Regions from separate parts of the Homo sapiens genome. Here all the other regions are linked to region 3. Evidence: fine-mapped expression QTL. A gene starts in region 3. Each other region holds a variant in brackets. All regions are shown on one strand. Distances are between the middles of the regions. Region 1 has its middle 75 kb from the start of SLC4A7. Region 2 has its middle 100 kb from the start of LINC02084. Region 3 holds the start of SLC4A7 (solute carrier family 4 member 7).

The links.
Region 1: its variant is fine-mapped to the expression of SLC4A7 in whole blood (INTERVAL, PIP above 0.99). The same link has a PIP of 0.9 or more in blood mononuclear cells and monocytes.
Region 2: its variant is fine-mapped to the expression of SLC4A7 in whole blood (INTERVAL, PIP 0.97).

What each region holds. Positions count from the first base shown.
Region 1 is chr3:27,555,925-27,563,027 of GRCh38, forward strand. No RefSeq gene overlaps it. Among named protein-coding and RNA genes, the nearest start is that of SLC4A7, 75 kb to the left of the region's middle. The variant T/C (reference allele first, on the strand shown) is at 4,277.
Region 2 is chr3:27,606,070-27,613,172 of GRCh38, forward strand. No RefSeq gene overlaps it. Among named protein-coding and RNA genes, the nearest start is that of LINC02084, 100 kb to the right of the region's middle. The variant C/CT (reference allele first, on the strand shown) is at 3,767.
Region 3 is chr3:27,482,201-27,488,888 of GRCh38, forward strand. It overlaps SLC4A7 (solute carrier family 4 member 7), which reads right to left and starts at 2,184. Exons shown (of 26, transcript NM_001321103.2): 1 at 1,867-2,184. The coding sequence starts at 1,926. It also overlaps the pseudogene UBA52P4. RefSeq lists enhancers at 923-982, 1,143-1,352, 1,383-1,442, 1,458-2,234, 2,713-2,842 and silencers at 1,613-1,682, 1,713-2,072, 2,103-2,582.

The DNA of each region.
Region 1 (7,103 bases), 74 kb after region 3:
AACTCCTGGGCTCAAGCGATCCTCCCACCTTGGCCTCACAAAGTGCCAGGATTACAGGCATCAGCCACCACACCTGGCCTAAAAGTTGAATTCTTAAGATATTCCAATGTTGGAGTTACCTATGTTGGGGCTCAAAAACCAAAATACCAACATATGGCATTTTGACATGCTAAATTAAAAAAGTCTCAAGGTCTCTCTGATCTCCCTCCCTCCCTCCCACCCCCCACCACCTCTCCCAGAATCTTTATCTGCTTAAGATCCAAACCCACCAAAAGGAACAATTGTTTTTCTTCCCCTTCCAGTAAGACCAAGAATGTTACCACATCTGAACAGATCCTTTTACCTTCAAAGAGAAATAGATGCAGAACAAATTAATGCCTGTTCCCAGATCTATTAATTCTCCCTTGTAATCCCCTCAACAGAATTTCTCTTCTCCTCCCATAGCCTGTTTTGCGGAGGTGGTATACAAGCTTCTAACCACACTGGAGATGGGCAATTACTCTGAGATACTTCTCATGCATACATTGTACATGTGTTAAGTACATTTGTATGCCTTTTCTCTAGTTAATTTGCCTTTCGTGATTTGACTTTTCAGATAACTCTCAGAAGGCCAAAGAAAAAGCTTTCCCTTGACCCTCACACCTACAATTAATGAAATATTCAGAAACAAAAGGTTTCCTAGCCAGGCACGGTAGCTTACGCCTGTTATCTCAGAACTTTGGGGAGCCAAGGAGGGAGAATTGCTTGAGGCAAGGAGTTCGAGACCAGCCTGGCCAACATAGCAAGACCCCCATCTCTATAAAAAATTTTAAAAATTAGCAGGGCATGATGGCACACTCCTATAGTGCTAGTTACTTGGGAGGCTGAGGAAGGAGGATTGCTTGAGCCCAGGAGTTCAAGATTACAGTTAGCTGTGATCCTGCCACTGTATTCCAGTCGTGTAATGGAGTGAGACCCTGTCTCTAAATAAAAAAAGAAAAAAAAAAGAGGTTTCTCCATAGGAACAAAACAGTAACGTAACTCCATGAATTCTGAAGTGAATCATTGGCCTTCCATAGACCCACCCAAATTTCTTTTCCAACAACTCGAGTTAATATCAGCAACATGAGATCCCAGACTGTGTTCTTTTTATTAGTTTGGAAAGAATGACTAATCCCTGTATTCTATTCTTGGAAACTGTTATTTTCACCAACTTAGGAAGAATGGACTAATACTAATAGTATCTAACATTTATAGCACTTTCACAGTTTACAAAGTCTTCTTCCATATAATCCTCACAGCAGTTCCGAGCCGAAGTGACTTGCCATGGCTCACCTGTAGCTAAGTGGCACAGCTAGGATATAAACACAGGTTTTCTGAATCTGGCCTTCAGTTCTAACTGTGCACTGGACAGGGCATGTAATGGTAGCTGCTGAAACTAATGACATCCATGTTTCAGTGGTGGAACGCAGTAAAGTTGATTCCTCATTCTTGTCACAGCAATATGGGTTGATGGGGCTGGGGATTCTGCTCCATGTAGTCACGCAGAGACTCATGTTCTTTCTACCTGTGCATTAATATCTTCTACATGTGGCCTCCAAAGCTACTAGAGAATGGGAAATAGTGGGAGATCACACATGGGAGCTTTTTATGGGCCAGGCCTGGAAATGGCTCACATCACTTTTGCTCATGTCCTTTGGCCAAAACCCAATCTCAGCAAGGAAGGCCAAGATGTAATTCAACTGTTTTCCCAGATCCACAGCCTTGGGAAAGTAGAACTGAGAACTTTGTCTTTTAGTACTTTAGTTTATCAGGCCTCCGTGAAGTCCCTTCTGCTGAGGAGGCCATGCTGAGCAGTCTCTGGAAGTTTTTTATTTTCCTTCCCATGTGATCCTTTTGCTTCTCTGAGCTCCCAGAACTCCTCTTTCTTTATTCCTCCTACTTTTCAAACCTTTCTCAGAGGCTGTTTTAAGATATATAATGTTATCTTCTTATTTTCTGTAACTTTTCACTTGTGTATTTCTCCCTGACATGAAACATAAACTCTTTAAAAGCAGAATTGTATCTACTATTGCAATACTGTGAGATACATTTCCTCTAGTCACCTTAATCAACCCTCCACTTCATCCAAAGAAATTAAATTCTGCCAAAATTGATGGAGGCTTATTATGTACAAGGTGCTATGCTTGGTGCCATTGGAAGAAGCAAAGAGGAATTAGGAATGGGTCTTTAAAAGCTTGTAAAAAAAAAAGGCTATACGTGAAAGTACAATCAAGAATGTAGAAATACACTGATAAGAAAATATAGTTGGAAGAGGCTGATTCTGAATTGACGGAAAGGGGACTGGAAAAGTTTTCACTGAAGAAATTATAAACATGATAGAAGTAGCTAGCAGTTGTCGAACTTTTCCTATAAGCCAGGCACTGTATTGGAGTGTTTTATATATGTCACACCATGTCATTCTCATAACAATCTTATGAGAGGGCACTGTCATTGTTCCCATTAACCAAATAAGAACAAACATGGGGAGAATTTGCTATAAAGGACGTTTCTGGGTCAATTGGTGAGATGTCAATATGGACTGTAGATTAGATAGATAATCGTATTATTGTATGAATGCTAAATCTCTTGATTTTGATCATTATTTTCTGGTTATATAAGGAATGTCCTTGTTTTTTTTTTTTTTGAGAAGGAGTCTCGCTTTGTTGCCCAGGCTGGAGTGCAGTGGTGTGATCTTGGCTTACTGCAACCTCTGCCTCCCAGGTTCAAGCAATTCTCTGCCTCATCCTCCCAAGTAGCTGGGATTACAGGCGCTCGCCACCACGCCCAGCTAATTTTTGTAATTTTAGTAGAGACTGGGTTTCACCATCTTGGCCAGGCTGGTCTTGAACTCCTGACCTTGTGATCCACCTGCCTCAGCCTCCCAAAGTGCTGGGATTACAGGCATGAGCCATTGCACTTGGCCAGGAATGTCCTTGGTTTTTTTTTTTTTTTTTGGAGGTGGAGTTTCACTCCTGTTGCCCAGCAACCTCTGCCTCCCGGGTTCAAGCCATTCTCCTGCCTCAGCCTCCCGAGTAGCTGGGATTACAGGCATGTGCCACCATGTCCGGCTAATTTTGTATTTTTAGTAGAGACGGGGTTTCTCCATGTTGGTCAGGCTGGTCTTGAACTCCTGACCTCAGGTGATCTGCCTGCCTCGGCCTCCCAAAGTGCTGGCATTACAGGCGTGAGCCACCTTACCCAGCCGAATGTCCTTGTTAATAGGAAATTTACTCTGAAGTATTTAGGAATAAAGGGGCATGATGTCATAAATTTCCTCTCAAATACTTCAGAAAACTGTAATAATTAGATGTGTGTGCATTCATGTGTATGGAGAGAGAGAGAGAGAAGGAAAGAATGATAAAACAAATGCAGCAAAATGTTAACAATTGGTGACATATGGCAGGTTGGGCTGCTATAACAGAATACCACGGACTAGGTGGCTTACACAACAGAAGTCTATTTTTTTTATAGTTCTGGAGGATGGAGGTCCAAGATCAAGGTACAGCATGATCAGGTTCTAATAAGAACTCTCTTCCTGGCTTACAGATGGCTGTCTTCTTACTGTGTTCTCACATGGCAGGGGGGTAGCAAGTTCTCTGGTGCCTCTTCTTCTAAGGGCACTAATTCCATTATGAGACCCAACTCTCATGACCTCATCTAAACCAAATCACCTCCTAAAGGCACCAGGCTAAATACCATCACACTGAGGGTTGGGGCTTTAACATATGAATTGTGGGGAGACACCATTCAGTCCATAGCAGTGAGTGATGGGTATAGTGGAAATTTTGTACTATTTTTGCTACTTCCTGTAAGTTTAGAATTATTTAAAAATAAGAAGGTAAAAGAAAAAAGAAAAAACATTGGCATAAAGTGTTTTACCCAGGTCACGCAGCTGGTGAGTGGTAGGAAATGGTCTTTTCCTATGTTCTTTAGAACCCACTCTCTTAGATGCTGCACGGACACAGATGCTTTGTGACTTCTCATATCCTCTGGCATGGTCCACCTCCTCAATCATACCGCAGCTGAGGACAAACTAGGCCCTCCCCCTTGGCTAGTGCTCTGCAGCTGGATCAAGCAGACGCTCTTCCAGAATGTCTGGCTTCTCCCACTGCTTCCGGATTTGGATGAAATGCTGTGCTGCAGGGCATAGGATCAGATAGGCAAAAGGAAAGAATGATGCAAGCAGGAATGCAAGGTAGTTTCTGCCTGCAGAGCAAACTTTCGCCAATTAGGGCCGTGTGCAGTGGCTCATGCC[T/C]GTTATTCCAGCACTTTGGGAGGCCAAGGTGGGCGGATCACCTGAGGTCAGAAGTTCCAGACCAGACTGGCCAACGTGGCTCTACTAAAAATACAAAAATTAGCTGGGCGTAGTGGTGGGCGCCTGTAATCCCAGCTACTCCGGAGGCTGAGGCAGGAGAATTGTTTGAACTCTGGGAGGCAGAGGTTGCAGTGATCCGAGATCGCGCCATTACACTCCAGCCTGGGTGACAAGGTGAGACTCTGTCTCAAATAAAACAAAACAAAACCGCAACAACAAAAAACACACTTTGGCCAACTGGAAGCGGGAGACAGGGTTTCGTCTACCTTCCTCTCTTCCACGGACAACCTCAATGTGAGAGAAGTTCTGTGTGCTGAGCACGCACCCGCACAACAGAGTAAAACATTACTTTATATTGCAATTTTATATTATTATTGCACTTTATATATTACCTTAATATAGTATTATAATATTATAATTATATAACATTAATATATATTAATATATAATATATACATTATATTATTGCACTTTATATTGCACTTTATATATTACTTTATATTGTGCAATATATTACTTTATATTGTACAACAGAGTAAAACATTACTTTATATTGCTCCACATCTTTTCTTGCCCCACTTCCCCTTTTCCCCATCCCAGCTGCTGTGGGTTTGCACTTCTCAAAGGAAGCATTAGCACTTTAATCCCTGCCTTGGGCTCTGTTTTCTAGAGTACTAGGGCTAATTAGAGAAAAAAAAAAAAAAAAAAAAAAAGGGCCGGGCACGGTGGCTCCTGCCTGTAATCCCAGCACTTTGGGAGGCCGAGGGGAGGCGGGCGGATCACGAGGTCAGGAGATCGAGACCATCCTCGCTAACATGGTGAAACACCATCTCTACCAAAAACACAAAAAATTAGCCGGGCGTGGTGGCAGGCGCCTGTAGTCCCAGCTATTCAGGAGGCTGAGGCAGGAGAATGGCGTGAACCTGGGAGGCGGAGCTTGCAGTGAGCTGAGATTGGGCCACTGCACTCCAGCCTGGGTGACAGAGCAAGACTCTGTCTCAAAAAAAAAAAAAAAAAAAAAAAAGGCCGAGCACGGAGGCTCACGCCTGTAATCCCAGCGCTTTGGGAGGCCGAGGTAGATGGATCACCAGGTCAGGAGATCGAGACCATCATGGCCAACATGGTGAAACCCCGTCTCTACTAAAAATATGAAAATTAGCCGGATGTTGTGGTGCGTGCCTGTAGTCCCACATATTCAGGAGGCTGAGGTACGAGAATCAGTTGAACCCAGGAGGCGGAGGTTGCAGTGAGAATTGCACTCCAGCCTGATGACAGAGTGAGACACTCCGTCTCAAAAAAAAAAAAAAAGAAAAGACTATGCTGTACTGCCCCTAATTTGAGCTGAGTCCTAAAGACAGGTAATATTTTGACAGCCAGAAATTTGAGAGAAAGGCAATACAAAAAGAAGGAATGGCTTTATTTATTTTTGAGACAGCATCTCGCTTTGTCATCCAGGCTGGAGTACAGTGGCATGATCATGGCTCATCACAGCCTCACACTCCTGAGCTTAAGCAATCCTCCCACTTCAGCCTCTTGAGTAGCTGGGACTACAAGCGGGTGCCACCATGCCCAGATGATTTTTTAATTTTTAAAATTTTTTTGTAGAGACAAAATTTGCTATGTTGCCTAGACTGGTCTCGAACTCCTGGCCTCAAGAGAGCTTCCTGCCTTGGCCTTCCAAAATGCTGGGATAACAGGCATGAGCCACAGCCAGGCCAAGAAATAGGAGTGGTCTTAGGTAAAGCATGAGGGATAACAGTAAATGGCTTGCTGAGGCTGTAGTATGGGGCAGGCGGGTGGTAATGGGATACAGGGAATGAATTGAGATGCAATAAGGTTGGGCACGGTGGCTCATGCCTGTAATCCCAGCACTTTGAGAGGCCAAGGCGGGAGGATCACCTGAGGTTGGGAGTTCAAGACAAGTCTGACCAACATGGTGAAACCTCGTCTCTACTAAAAAAATTAGCCGGTTTAGTGGTGAGCGCCTGTAATCCCAGCTACTCAGGAGGCTGAGGCAGGAGAACAGCTTGAACCCAGGAGGCGGAGGTTGTAGTGAGCCAAGATCGCACCATTGCACTCCAGCCTGGGCAACAGAGCAAGACTCTGTCACACACACACACACACACACACACACACACACACACAGATGCATTAAAAGATGATTGGCTTAAATGCCTGCTGTAGAGTTCAGACAACATTCTGTGGGCATTAGTGAGCCATGAGGACTTTTTGAGGTAGGATGAATAAAATAATAATAAGAATGGTGATGACAATAAGTATGAGGATGATAATAGTAGCATTACTAATGAAAACTAATGTTTATTAAATACTTATTAATACTATTTGCTCATCTTTGTACTAAGCATTTTTCATAAATTACTTCCTTTTATTCTATCAATAATCCTATGACATGGGTACTGTTATTATTCCCTAAAGCTTAGAATGGTTAATAAACTTGGTCAACGTTACACGGATTTTGAACCCTAGAATGCCACGCACTTTGCCACCAGAGCTAGTTTTAGGAACATAATTTTGGGAAAAGTGTGAAAGCTAAAGACATTAGAAGTAGGGCTGCTCATAGTCAAAGATTTTTCCAGCTTTTTTTTTTTTTTTAAATAAAAGATAGAAAGAAATGCGAAACACAACTTTCCTTGTCCATATTTATTTTATTTATTTATTTATTTATTTTCTTGAGACAGTGAGGCATGATCTCAGCTCACTGCAACCTCCACCTCCTGAGTTCAAGCAATTCTCCTGCCTCAGCTTC
Region 2 (7,103 bases), 120 kb after region 3:
GGCGTGGTGGCATATGCCTGTAGCTCCAGCTACTAAGGAGGCTGAAGCAGGAGAATCGCTTGAACCCGGGAGGAGGAGGTTGCAGTGAGCCGAAATTGCGCCACTGCACTCCAGACTGGGCGACAGAGAGAGACTGTCTCAAAACAAACAAACAAACAAACAAACAAACAAACAAACAAAAAACCCCAAAAAACTCCGATCCCCGAATTCTCGAGGAGACTGATTTGAGTAATAAAAACTCCAGTTTCCTGTACAACCAGCTCTGTGTGAATTAAACTCTTTCTGTATTGCAATTCCTCTCTCTCCATAAATCAGCTCTGTCTAGGCAGCGGGCAAGGAGAACCCATTGGGCAGCTACACTCCCACCTCAACCTCTGGAGTAGTTGGGACCACAGGCGTGCACCACCATGCCTGGCTAATTTGTAGAGACAGATTTTTGCCATGTTGCCCAGGCTGGTCTTGAACTCCTGGGCTCAAGGGATCCTCCCAACTCAGCCTCCCAAAGTGCTGAGATTACAGATGTGAGCCACCGTGCCTGGCCTCTTTGAACAATTTTAAATGCTGACGATATAGGGGTCACAAGAATTATGAGATAAAGCACAAGAATTATGAGAGCATATTCAGATTCAGAGCTAAAAAATGCAGCAATTGATTAGTAATGTCTGACATGGTGGGTAAGGTATGTGTGTGTGTGGAGAGGATGGTTGAATAGCAATACACACGTCAAATATTGGTTACCCTGACTGAGGCACTTGGAACTGTACTTATTTTCCATGAAAGCACATATCTGATGTGGAACCATGCTCAACTTCCTGTTAAGCTGAAGTTTGTACCCTGGGACCTGTGAACAAAATCTAGGCATGGGTAGCATGAATTCTAGAGGTCTATAGATGGAGCACGCACACTCCATATCTCACATTCACCAATTTCCCCAATCACACTTTTTCTCTGCCTGATATTTGTTTGCTTTTCACTATCTAATTATTATTTCATTTTGCAGACTGGAAATTTCTGTACACTTCTGGATGTACCTTACCTAGGGAAATGCAAGGCCTAGCAGAGTGCTCCATATACAGAGTGGATATTCAATAAATGCTTGCTAAAATGAATTGAGTTCTGCTTTTCATAAATAACAGTGTATTCCTCAGACAATAGATTAGTAATCATCTATCAGACAACAGTTGGTAAGACTATTTGAATGTGGGCAGACCTAGGTGTGTGCTTTAGCTCTACCTTTTACTAGCTGTGTATAGGTAAGTTAACTGATGTCTCAGTTTTCTTATCAGTAAAATGGAAATCATAATACCTCAAAAGATGTTGTAAGTTGTAAGGCTTGAATGGGTTAGCATATGTAAAACATAAGCGGCACTAAATATTGTAGTTCCTTTTTCTTTACTCTCAATATTTGTCAAAAACTAAAACTAGTAAAAGAGTAGTAAAATGGACATTTGTTGACTCTCTCCCACTGGGTAGCAGCTATGTGCTTTGGCATGCAGAAAATTGACTCCACCTCCAGCTCCATGGGTGGGCCATGTTTGTTTAATCCTGTCTCAACCCCTTTGCTAAAGAGATTGGTTGTTGGTTTGGGTTAATCAACACTTGGCATTTCCCCACTGCAGGAAATTATTCAGGAACTGGCATGTGACCAAATTATGAACAATGACACATGAGAATTTAATTTTCTGGGAGCTTTTGGGGAATAAATTTCCATGTTTGTTTTGTTATTTTGTTATTTATTTATTTTTTTGAGACAGAGTCTCACACTGTTGCCCGCCTGGAGTACAGTGGTATGATCTTGGCTCGCTGCAGCCTCCACCTCCCGGGTTCAAGTGATTCTCCTGCCTCAGCCTCCCAAGTTGCTGGGATTACAGATGCCTGCTACCACGCCAGGCTAAGTTTTTGTATTTTTAGTAGAGACAGGTTTCAGTATGTTGGCCAGGCTGGTCTGGAACTCCTGACCTCGTGATCTGCCCACCTTGGCCTCCCAAAGTGCTGGGATTACAGGCGTGAGCCACTGCTCCTGGCCTAAATATTTGTGTTTCATTTAGGACTTTTTTTTTTTTTTGAGATGGAGTCCTGCTCTGTCGCCCAGGCTGGAGTGCAATGGTGCGATCTCGACTCACTGCAACTTATGCCTCCTGAGTTCAAGTGATTCTCCTGCCTCAGCCTCCTGAGTAGCTGGGATTACAGGTGCGCACCACCATGCCCAGCTATTTTTTTTTTTTTGTATTTTTAGTAGAGATGGGGTTTCACCATATTGGCCAAGCTGGTCTCGAACTCCTGACCTCGTGATCCACCCACCTCAGCCTCCCAGAATGCTGGGATTACAGGCGTGAGCCACTGTGCCTGGCTTATTTCTTCTCTCTCCCTGAATATGGAAGTCAGGAAGTATGAAGGATTGGTGGCAACCAGAGACCAAGGAAAAGCTTCCCCTTTGCCTTCTGAACCTTTGCAGAAAATCACGGACAAGAGGCAGATTAATAGGAGAAAAATCATACAAATTCATTTAATAAAAATTTTATGTGACATGGGAGCCTTCAGAATGAAGACCCAAAGGTACAGGGGAGACTGTCCATTTTTGTGCTTAGGTTAAAAAAAGTATGCACAGCCATGTAGAAATATGACTGGACAAAATGGATAAGATCTAATGCTGGGCTGGGCGCATGGCTCACGCCTGTAATCCCAGCACTTTGGGAGGCCAAGGCGGGTGGATCACCTGAGGTCAGGAGTTCAAGACCAGCCTGGCCAACACGGCGAAACCCCGTGTTTACTAAAAATACAAAAATTAGCTGGGCATGGTGGTGCATGCCTGTAATCCCAGCCCAGCTACTTGGGAGGCTAAGGCACGAGAATCACTTGAACCCCGGGAGGCAAAGTTTGCAGTGAGCCGAGATTGAGCCACTTCTCTCCAGCGTGGGCGAAACAGCAAAATTCTATCACACTATATATATATATATAATATAAATAAAATTAAAAATAAATAAGAATGAGGAGAAGGATAAAAACATTTAAAAGATGAGAGCAGAATAGAAGGAGTGAAACAGTGGGTAAATGAAGACGGATTCAATAGAAAGCCAGCAGCAAGGCGAGGGATGCTTTGAATGACCCTAGAAGCAAATTTAACTGGATTTAGACTGGCCCAGGACCAGCCCTAAGAACGGAATGTAATCTTGGTTTCTATATTATTTCCTGCATTAGACCACAGACATTATTGGGTTTGAGATTAAAGTGCCTTAAACAATGCAGGTGATATCAAGACTCACTTAAGCAAAGGTGATTCAGGTTTCAGTGCTGGTTTACAGTAGCATCAAGGTCTCAGTTTATTTCCATTAGGCCCTTTGTCAGGTCCATTTTATGGTTGTGTAGACCCACAAAAAAACAATACCTCAAAATGAAGGCCTCAGAGGCAGCTCTCTCTCTCTCTCTCTCTCTTTCTCCCACCCTCCTGTCTCTGGCCCCTCAATCTCCCCAATGGCTACCCGTAGAAACTGGAGTCCCTCTTCCCCAAGGACAGTCATAGAAACCAGAACCCCTTTTCCCCAAAGCCAGACATAAAACCTAAAAATATTACTCGAACTTCTTTCCCACCTCCCCTGCCTTTCTGTGTAAAATCTGGCCATAAAGAAATTGTAGGTCATAATACCCCCATTCCAGAGAGGATCCCGCCCCATACCCAGAAAGAAGGAATCCATGCTCAGAGAGGCCAAGAAGAATCTAGACAGACAGGCCTTGCTGGGTTTCCCCACTCAGTCCATTAACATTAGAT[C/CT]TTTTTTTTTTTTTTTGAGACAAAGTTTCGCTCTTGTTGCCCAGGCTGGAACGCAATGGTGCCATCTTGGCTCACTGCAACCTCCACCTCCTGGTTCACGTGATTCTCCTGCCTCAGCCTCCTAAGTAGCTGGGATTACAGGCCTCCTCACTCTTATTTAAAAGCATGCCTTCTCAACATAGTCTCAGTTGAGGAAAACAGGGAATACTGATTCACACTGAAGTATTGGTGACTGATGTATTTCCCATGTAGTGGAAGTGAAGCTGTAACACCATTCAGTGATCCTGGTAATGGTGTGGTATCTGAAATTGTCTACAGCAAATCAATGGACAATGATGCTCTTGAACCTTCTCACATCAGATTGTGAAAATAGCTACCATTTACACCTCCATCGTCAATGTGTTTACCACTCTCCCTCCTTTAGTTTTTATCTGAGGCCTGCTGTAGGACAGTTTCTGGAATAAAGCCATAGCATCTCCATCCTATTGAGATCATGGGGACTATAAGTAACAAAGGAAGTGAGCAACTGGAAGGCATCCCATCATTAAATATTCAAGAGTCAGAGGATATCTGATCGTGCCACATCATAAAGTCTCTGCCCTTCAGAAGTCTGTGAGATCACAGTGGGGTACGCCAGAGGGATGAGATAAACACAGCCACTAGACCCTCACTCTTTACATTTGACCCACTCACCTCTCCTGGAAGGCCCTGATACATTAGATAGAATGGCTGTGAATTTTAACTTCCTGGCCCTCCACAATGTCCCTCACTGTCACATTTTTACCTCCATAGGACCAGCCCCTGCTTTCTTTTTTTCTCTCTTTGCCTACTTAGAGAGTCTAACTCCTTGGTCAACTACAGTTAAATTTTTACTTTCTAGGGATGGATTCTTGTTCCAGGAAAATGTACAAAATTTGATACATAATTTAAATCCCTGAAGTCTTCATATCTTGAGGAACTTAGGACCTAGTCATATCCGCTTCTCTAGGCTGAGCCTCCTGCTTTGACCAGGCCCTATCAATTCTGTCTACACATTTTGGGTAGGTTCCCAAATCCTACCAAGTAAACCCCCAAATGGGTTCTGTTTCACATCAACTACGTACCCAAAAGGCATCAGATTCCATCATAGCTTTGTTGGCATCTAACATATGACTGTCTTAGAAAAAAAAAAACCCTTTATTTCCTGTGCTGTGTGCTTTGCATAGGCCTTGGGACTAAGACCACATGTCTTTGAGCCTGTGTTCTCAGGCTACCTTCTTGGTCAGGAAATCTTTTTACAGTTTATGGAAATCACTCTTGCTACCACTTCAAGACTGATTTTCTTTTTGACTGTCTTCCCCCAAATCTTTATAATTGCATAGTGTGAGCGAGTGAGGACTGTGGCTTATCGCAGCCTTGCAGTGAAGGCAGAAGAAGCTACTGCAGAAAGCTGCAGAATCTATTTGATAATGAAAAATCCAGATCCGGACAGATGGATGTTATATTTGGAGGAAACGCCATCACATGACCAAGGTTCCCGCTCTAAGGAGAGAACATACAGATGTTCACATACCAGAGAAGTCATGGCACTTCCAGAGGGATAAAGCAGCACTTTATTATTTTTCTTCATTCACAATCTTAAAGCTATAGAGAAAACCCAAGCAACATTAGGGTTCTGAATCAAAACGAAATGAGACTCAGTTGCAAGGAAACAAGCTTATCTGTATCCTAAATTGCAGTAAGTGTCTTTTTGTTTACTCATTTTACAACCATGCATAGAAAATGACACGTACATAGAAAAGGACACTTTTTCTATGCATGATTGTAAAATGCATAGGAAGAGGCAGCAGGCAGGGAGAGAACGGTGTTTATTCAGTTCTTGTTTAAAATGACCTTTATCTTTAGGGGAAGCTAACACTGGGTTCCGTATTATTATGATGTTACCGTGATTTCAACAGAGCATTTCACACCTACTAAGAAGCTCTAGTATTTAAACGTGTTTGAGTAAAAACAGTATTTTTCCTTCCCTGCATTCCTTTCTTCCTTCTGGCTTTCCTCTTTTCCTTCCTTCCTTCCTTCCTCCTTGCATCCTTGGCCGAGAAACATTAGGTGTCACAGCAGGACCTAGGGGGATTCTACCAAGATTAAACTCATTTGTATCAATATTTGGGCTGGGCGTGGTGGCTCATGCCTGTAATCCCAGCACTTTGGGAGGCTGAGGTGGGCGGATCAGACCTGAGGTCAGGAGTTTGAGACCAGCCTGACCAACATGGTGAAACCTCGTCTCTACTAAAAATGCAAAGTTAGCTGGGCATGGTGGCACACACCTGTAATCCCAGCTACTCAGGAGGTTGAGGCATGAGAATTGCTTGAACCTGGGAGGCAGAAGTTGTAGTGAGCCAAGATTGAGCCACTGCACTCCAGCCTGGGTGACAAAGTGAGATTCCATCTCAAAAAAAAAAAATTATACCAATATTTGTTGGTTATCTGCTCTGTACAGGGGCAGGTCCTATGCACACAAAAGGATGAAATAAATATATATCCACCCTTAAGAATCTTGAAGTTTAAGAAGGACAAAATCAACTGGGCATGGTGGCTCATGCCTTTAAGTCCAGCACTTTGAGAGGTTGAGGTGGAAGGATCACTGGAGCACACAAATTAAAGAACAGCCTGGGCAATACAGTGAGATTTCATCCTACCAAAAAAATTAAAAATTAGCCAAGCATGGTGGTGCACTTGTAGTCTCAGCTACTTAGGATGCTGGATTGGGAGAATCACTTGAGCCCAAAGCTAGAGGTTACAGTGAACCAAAGATCATGACACTCTAGCCTGGGCCACAGAGCAAGACCCTATCTCAAAAAAAAAAAAAAATAATAATAATAAAAGGCTAGGTGTGGTGGCTCACACCTGTAATCCCAGCACTTTGGGAGGGTGAGGCGGGTGGATCACAAGGTCAAGAGATCAAGACCATCCTGGCTAACACGGTGAAACCCCATCTCTACTAAAAACACAAAAACAAAAAATTAGCTGGGCGTGGTGGCAGGCGCCTGTAGTCCCAGCTATTGGGGAGGCTGAGGGAGGAGAATGGCATGAACCCAGGAGGCAGAGCTTGCAGTGAGCCGAGATTGCGCCACTGCACTCCAGCCTGGGTGACACAGGGAGACTCCATCTCAAAACAAAAGAAAACAAAATAATAAAAACCCAAAACCAAAAAACAAAAACAAGAAAACAGATCACAAATTACTGCAGTATAAAGGAGAGCAATAAAAATGTGACCATTGGCCCGGCACGGTGGCTCACGCCTGTAATCCCAGCACTTTGGGAGGCCGAGGCAGGCGGATCATGAGGTCAGGAGATC
Region 3 (6,688 bases):
AATAATAGTTTAAATAGCATAAACACTAGTCTAAATAAGTGTTATTACAATGAATGAATGAATAACTTGGAGGGCAATGGCCTTATCACATGCTTTCTCTACTAGCTAGGCAGGCAATATTTGAGAACACACCATAGTTTCTATCCAGCTCCGTGAAAACTCGAATGCACTTTACTGCTCAATTGAAAATTTGCAAATAAATTTAAGAACAGACAACATCATACTTGAAATACACAGAGAAAGTACTATAAAACAGTTTATTCAAAGGCTACACAAAGAATTACAGAAGGCCAGGCGCGGTGGCTCACGCCTGTAATCCTAGCACTTTGGGAGGCCGAGGCGGGTGGATTGCCTGAGGTCAGGAGTTCCAGACCAGCCTGGACAACATGGCAAAACCCCGTCTCTACTAAAAATACAAAAAATTAGCTGGGCATAGTGGTGCGTGCCTGTAATTCCTGCTACTCCGGAGGCTGAGGCGGGAGAATCGGTTGAACCTGGGAGGAGGAGGTTGCAGTGAGCCGAGATCGCACCACTGCATTCCAGCCTGGGCGACAGAGCGAGACTCTGTCTCAAAATAATAATAATAATAATTACAGATTATTTAGGATGAGTTTCCAGTATTCCATTACCATCACTGTGAATTATCTTCCAATAACCACTGCTAAATGACTTCACTGTCTGGTGACTGAGTTTTCTTCTATGTTAGAGAACTTATATGAACGTACTGAACTAATGAATGACTACTTTCCATAACCTTAACTATAATCCTAAAAGTTAAAAGGGAAAGCCGGCAGGCAGTTTTAAAGACAACTCTTGAATAAAAACATAGGAGAAGTAATTTTCCTCTTAGTTGTGAAAGACCGGACAATTTTCCCTGCAACCTTCCCGCCTTTGCTGGTTGCATAGTAAAAATTAGAAGTAGGAAAATTTAGAATACTTCCATCTCCTTTGAGTCACGAACTTGGAAAGGAGAAAGAGACAACTGCGGGGACGCATGTGCTCTAAAGAAAGCAGGAAGTCCGCTTCTTGAGCATGGGCCGTTCACCCATCATCACAAATGGGAACACCGGCCTTAAGTCCATCCCCATTCTCTTCTAACCCTGAAATCAAAGCCAGTCTCAGTAGGAAACGCGATCTTGCTAGCTGAGTTAGAGAAGGAGCACCAGACAGCTCAGGACACCCTCCTCCTTCTACTTGGCCTGCGGCAGGAGGATACTCCCCGGGTCCCAGCCAGTGGAGAAGGCGGACCCGGCAGGCAACAGCGAAAGAGCCTTGGCCGGGAAGGAGCGCGGCCAGTCCACGCGGCCGGAGAACTCACCGAACAAAGCGCACCGCGGAGCGGGAGGGGACACTCGGAAAGAGGGGGAAAGATTCAACCAGCTCTTCACCACTGCCTGGGGCTAGAGACAGGTGGAGCCGCCGTCCTCCTTAGAAGGAGAAGAAAGATAGGTTTTCGAGGGCTAATCTGAAACTCCTGCGCCAAGGCAACCGGAACCGGGACCCCGCCTGGGGAGCGCGCTAAGAAACAGGGGAGGCGAGCGCTGAGGGAAGGGATGGATGGTCGGGGTCACAGGCGGCCTCTGCGGGGATGTCGGGGTCCCGCCTGAGCCGCGCAGAGGATGCCCGCGGCGCGCCGCCGGCCGCCCCGACTCGGGCCTCCCGAGCGCAGCCGCTGGCCCCCTCCCACCCGCGCCCCAGGCCGCCACACAAAGGGGATGGCGAGGCGCGCCGGCCGCCGGGAGGTGGAGGGGCGACGGGCCTGGGACGAGGTGGCCGAGCCGCGACGCCCGCCGCGCCCCCCGCCTTTGTCTGCCTCGCCCCGCGCCCTCCCCCTGCGGAGGAGCCCCACCGCCGCGGCGCCCTCACCCTGCTCGTTACCCGGGTGAGTAGCGGTCTCATCTGCTCGCCGGCCCCATCAGCCTCCATGGCCGGCCGGCCAGCCCGTGACGGCCGCTACGGTACTGCCCCGCGCGGTCTGCCTGCTTCTGCCGCTGCCCCTGCCGCCGCCGCCGAGCCCCCGGCGCGCGAGGACAAACGTGGGTGCGTCCGTGCGCGAGGTGTGCGCGCGTGGGGAGAGCCGGGCGCCGGGCGCGGGAGACGCGGGGCGTGCGTGTGCGCGCTGCGACTGCTGGGCTGGCTTTAGTAGGAGAGCGAGGCCGCGGCGTGGAACCTGAAGCTAGAACTGAGCGAACCGGCGGACCGAGCGGGAAGGAGGAGAGCCGCGTAGGAGGAGGGGTTCGGGGGCGGAGCCGCAAACCGTGACGAGCCCGGCGCCGGGGCCAGGCAAGACACGCCCCCCCGCCCCGCCTCCTCGGGTCACGCCCCCTGCCAGTCTGGCACCGCCAGCCTCCTCAGCGCGCCCGCGGGCCGCGCCGCTAGGCCACCGGGAGATGGGGCGGGAGGGAGGCGGGACGGACATTTGTCCCAGCCAATCGGCGGCTGGCGGACTTCCGCTCGCCTCCCCCGTGCCACCTCCTCAGGACGCACCGCCCCTCTTTGTATAAGCTTAATTGACCGAAGCTGAGCGTCTAACTAGTTTTTCAAGTCGGAAGCTCCCCTGACGTTCTCAATGGGGTGGGGGGTCACCACCTCCCTTGGCTCCTAACTACATTCTTTAGAGGCTGCAGGGAAGGAGGACGCCACCTCTGTCAAGGACGCCCAGGATAACCCTCCGAAGCAACTAACGAGTCTTCACGACTCCTGGAAGTTTCTTTTCTGTCAATCCAGTAGGCACGAACCCCAACTCAGGGACCGTGAAAGATGGGGTACACTTGACCAGGTGTCCTCCTGTGCTTGCTCGCCCACTGAGCACCACGACAGCTGCCACTTTTTTTTTTTTTTTTTTTTTTTTTGAGACAGAGTCTTGCACCAGCCCAGGTTGGAGTGCAATGGCATGATCTCGGCTCACTGCAACCTCCGCTGCCTGGGTTCAAGCTATTCTCCTGCCTCAGCCTCCTGAGTAGCTGGGACTACAGACGCGCGCCACCACGCCCGGCAACTTTTTGTATTTTTAGTAGAGACGGGGTTTCACCATGTTGGTTAGGCTGGTCTCGAACTCCTGAGCTAAGGTGATCCACCAGCCTCAGCCTCCCAAAGTGCTGGGATTACAGGCATGAGCCACCACACCCGGCCAGCTGCCACATTATTGAGTCCACCCTGTAGGCCGTCTCTCAAATATCCCTTCTGTAACGGGATGATTGTAATACCTGCCATGCAGGCTCATTGAAGGATTAAGGGGATTTATATTCATAAAAGTGCCTGGCACATAGCATGCTGATAATTTTCATTATTGTTAACAGGTTTCTCTTGAGTGTTTCATAAAGATGAGAAATTTGGCCGGGCGCGGTGGCTTACGCCTGTAATTACAGCAGTTTGGGAGGCCGAGGCGGGCGGATCACCTGAGATCAGGAGTTCGAGACCAGCCTGACCAACATGACGAAACCCCGTGTCTACTAAAAATACAAAAATTAGCCAGGCATGGTGGCAGGCACCTGTAATCCCAGCTACTCAGGAGGCTGAGGCAGGAGAATCGCTTGAACCCAGGAGGCAGAGGTTGCAGTGAGCTGAGATCACGCCACTGCACTCCAGCCTGGGTGACAGAGCTAGACCCTGTCTCAAAAAAATAAAAAATAAAATAAAAAAAGATAAGGAGAGGTTTAGTTGGGAAGAACTGAAGCCATGCAATGGAAGGATATATAAATACATCAGCGGATCCAGAGCTCACATCCTATTCATCTCCAACTGGGTATTAGTAAAGCTTTTTGTCAGCAATAGGTAGCTAGGTATGCTGGATGACTCATTCCTTCTTTGGGCCCTAGTCCCCTTTTGTCCTAAATTTCCCAGAGAGTTACTTCCAGTCCAGCACACATTGTTCACTTACTTGTACAAGAGCAGATGTGCCTCTATTAATAGCTACTATGTAAAGAGGCCTACAATTAGAGACTGTGACATTTGGCAAACATATTTCATTTCTAATCCTCTCAATACTGCAAAATATCTGCCGTCATCTTTTTCTTCGGCAAGGCAACTGAGCTGCAGACGCAGAGACGCAGATCTTTGTGAAGACCCTCACGGGCAAGACCATCACTCTTGACGTCAAGCCAAGTGACACCATTGAGAATGTCAAAGCCAAAATTCAAGACAAGGAGGTATCCCACCTGACCAGCAGCATCTGATACTTGCTGGCAAACAGCTGGAGGATGGCCGAACTCTCTCAGACTGCAACATCTGGAAAGAGTCCACCCTGCACCTGGTGCTGCGCCTGTAAGGTGGCATTATTGAGCCTTCCCTCTGCCAGCTCTCCCAGAAATACAACTGTGACAAGATGATCTGCCGCAAGTGCTATGCTTGCCTGCACCCCCGTGCTGTCAACTGCTGCAAGAGGTGTGACCACACCAACAACCTGTAACCCAAGAAGGTCAAGGCTCTTCCTTCCTCGAACGGCAGCCTCCCTGGAGCCTCAATAAAGTGTGTCTCTTTCGTTGACTGGAGCAGCAAAAACAAACAAACAAAAAAACAATACTACAAAATATGTTATAGCTCCATTTTACAGATGAGGAAGCTGAAGCCCATAGAAATACTGGTTTTGAGTTCTGGTGAGTGGAACTGCTCTTACTATTGGCACCATTCTTTTTTATTTATTTATTTTTGAGATGGAGTCTCACTCTGTTGCCCAGGCTGGAGTACAGTGGCACAATCTCGGCTCACTGCAACCTCCATCCTCCAGGTTCAAGCAATTCTCCTGCCTCAGCCTCCAGAGTAGCTGGGATTACAGGCGCCCGCCACCACACCTAGCTAATTTTTTGTATTTTTAGTAGAGATGGGGTTTCACCATGTTGGCCAGGCTGGTCTAGAACTCCTGACCTCCAGTGATCCACCTGCCTCGGCCTCCCAAAGTGCTGAGATTACAGGTGTGAGCCACCGCATCTGGCTATAACATTCTATATATTTTATGATTTATTATGCTTATTGTCTACACACACACACACACACACACACGCACAAATGTGAGCTCCATGTAAGCTTCATGTGTACAGCAAATTTGGTTTTTGGTTTTTGGTTTTTTCTCAGATATCCCTATGCCTACGTGAGTGTTTGGCCCCTGTAAACTCTCAGCACATGTGTTAAATGAGTAAATGTACAGGTGGGGCATACATCTGCTCTTCTTAAGATCTAAGAGCATCTTAGGTGACAGCTGAGCATGTGGCCATAGTAACAAGAACAAAGTAGGAGTCAAGAATCATGGTGCCAGAGTTGAAAGTGTTAAATAGTCAGCTTCAAGAAGGTCTTAAAAATGTATGCTTGGCAGACCTTGCTAAACAATGAATTTCTGTTCATCTATCTTGCAAGAAGAAAAAATTATTGGTTTATTTAATCCACAAATATTTTTTTAGTGACGTCTTTGTTGCCATGCACTTTTTCCACTCCTCATTTCATCCCAACTGCTAGAAGAGGAATGTAGCAAAGATCTGAATTATTAAATTTATCACTCAGTTGCCCACTTAATTCAACCTCAGCCAAAGTTCATTCAAGAAGATAATGTGTTAAAATTGCTTTTGTGCAACCAGAGATGGCTATAAAGTGTTCCAAGGTGCTGAAAGGTAAATTGTATTCTTGAATATTTTAAATATTCATCTGGGGCCAGGTGCAGTGGCTCATGCTTGTAATCCCAACACTTTGGGAGGCCAAGGCAAGTGGATCACCTGAGGTCAGGAGTTTGAGACCAGCCTGGCCAACACGGTGAAACCCTATATCTACTAAAAATACAAAAATTAGCTGGGCATGGTGGCAGGCACCTATAGTCACAGCTACTCAGGAGGCTGAGACAGGAGAATTGTTTGAACCCCGGAGGCCAAGGTTGCAGTGAGCCAAGATCACGCCATTGCACCCCAGCCTGGGGCACAGGTCCAGACTCCGTTTCAAAAAAAAAAAATTAATTTGAAATATGGCACAGGGAAACATTTGCTAAACAAAGGTAAATGTAAACCTAAATTCATCAGTAGCAATGAAGTGGTAGTACCTAAAGTTAATGAGTTTTAGCTGTATCCTAAATTCAGAATACTTCCTGAGTATCTGGAGCAGTAGATAATCCTAAAAACCCCTTGGCAAGATCCCCATCCTGAGGAGTGAACGGTCTTCCCAAGAACAATTCTCTATAGGCCAAGGTATAGTTTATAAAGACAGAGAGCAGCTTCTTTGGTATTTTGAAAAGTGTGAAACCATTCTTTTTTTTTTTTTTTTGAGGCGGAGTTTCACTCTTGCTGTCCAGGCTGGAGTGCAATGGTGCAATCTCGGCTCACTGCAACCTCTGCCTCCCTGGTTCAAGCAATCCTCCTGCCTCAACCTCCCAAGTAGCTAGGATTACAGGCACGTACCACCATGCCTGGCTAATTTTGTATTTTTTAGTAGAGACGGGGTTTCTCCATGTTGGTCAGGCTGGTCTCAAACTCCTGACAACATCAGGTGATCTGCCCACCTCAGCCTCCCAAAGTGCTGGGATTACAGGTGTGAGCCACCGCACCTGGCCACGTGAAACCATTCTTAACTTTTAGCAGAGGGTTCTTTGGCAATTATATGTATCTTCATTGCCTCTTCTTGGTTATAGCTAATATTTAAAGGTTTTCTATCATCTGATCCTATAAGGAAAAGTAAAATCATTGGAATAGTGTTTTCAAGAGTACCAGAACAG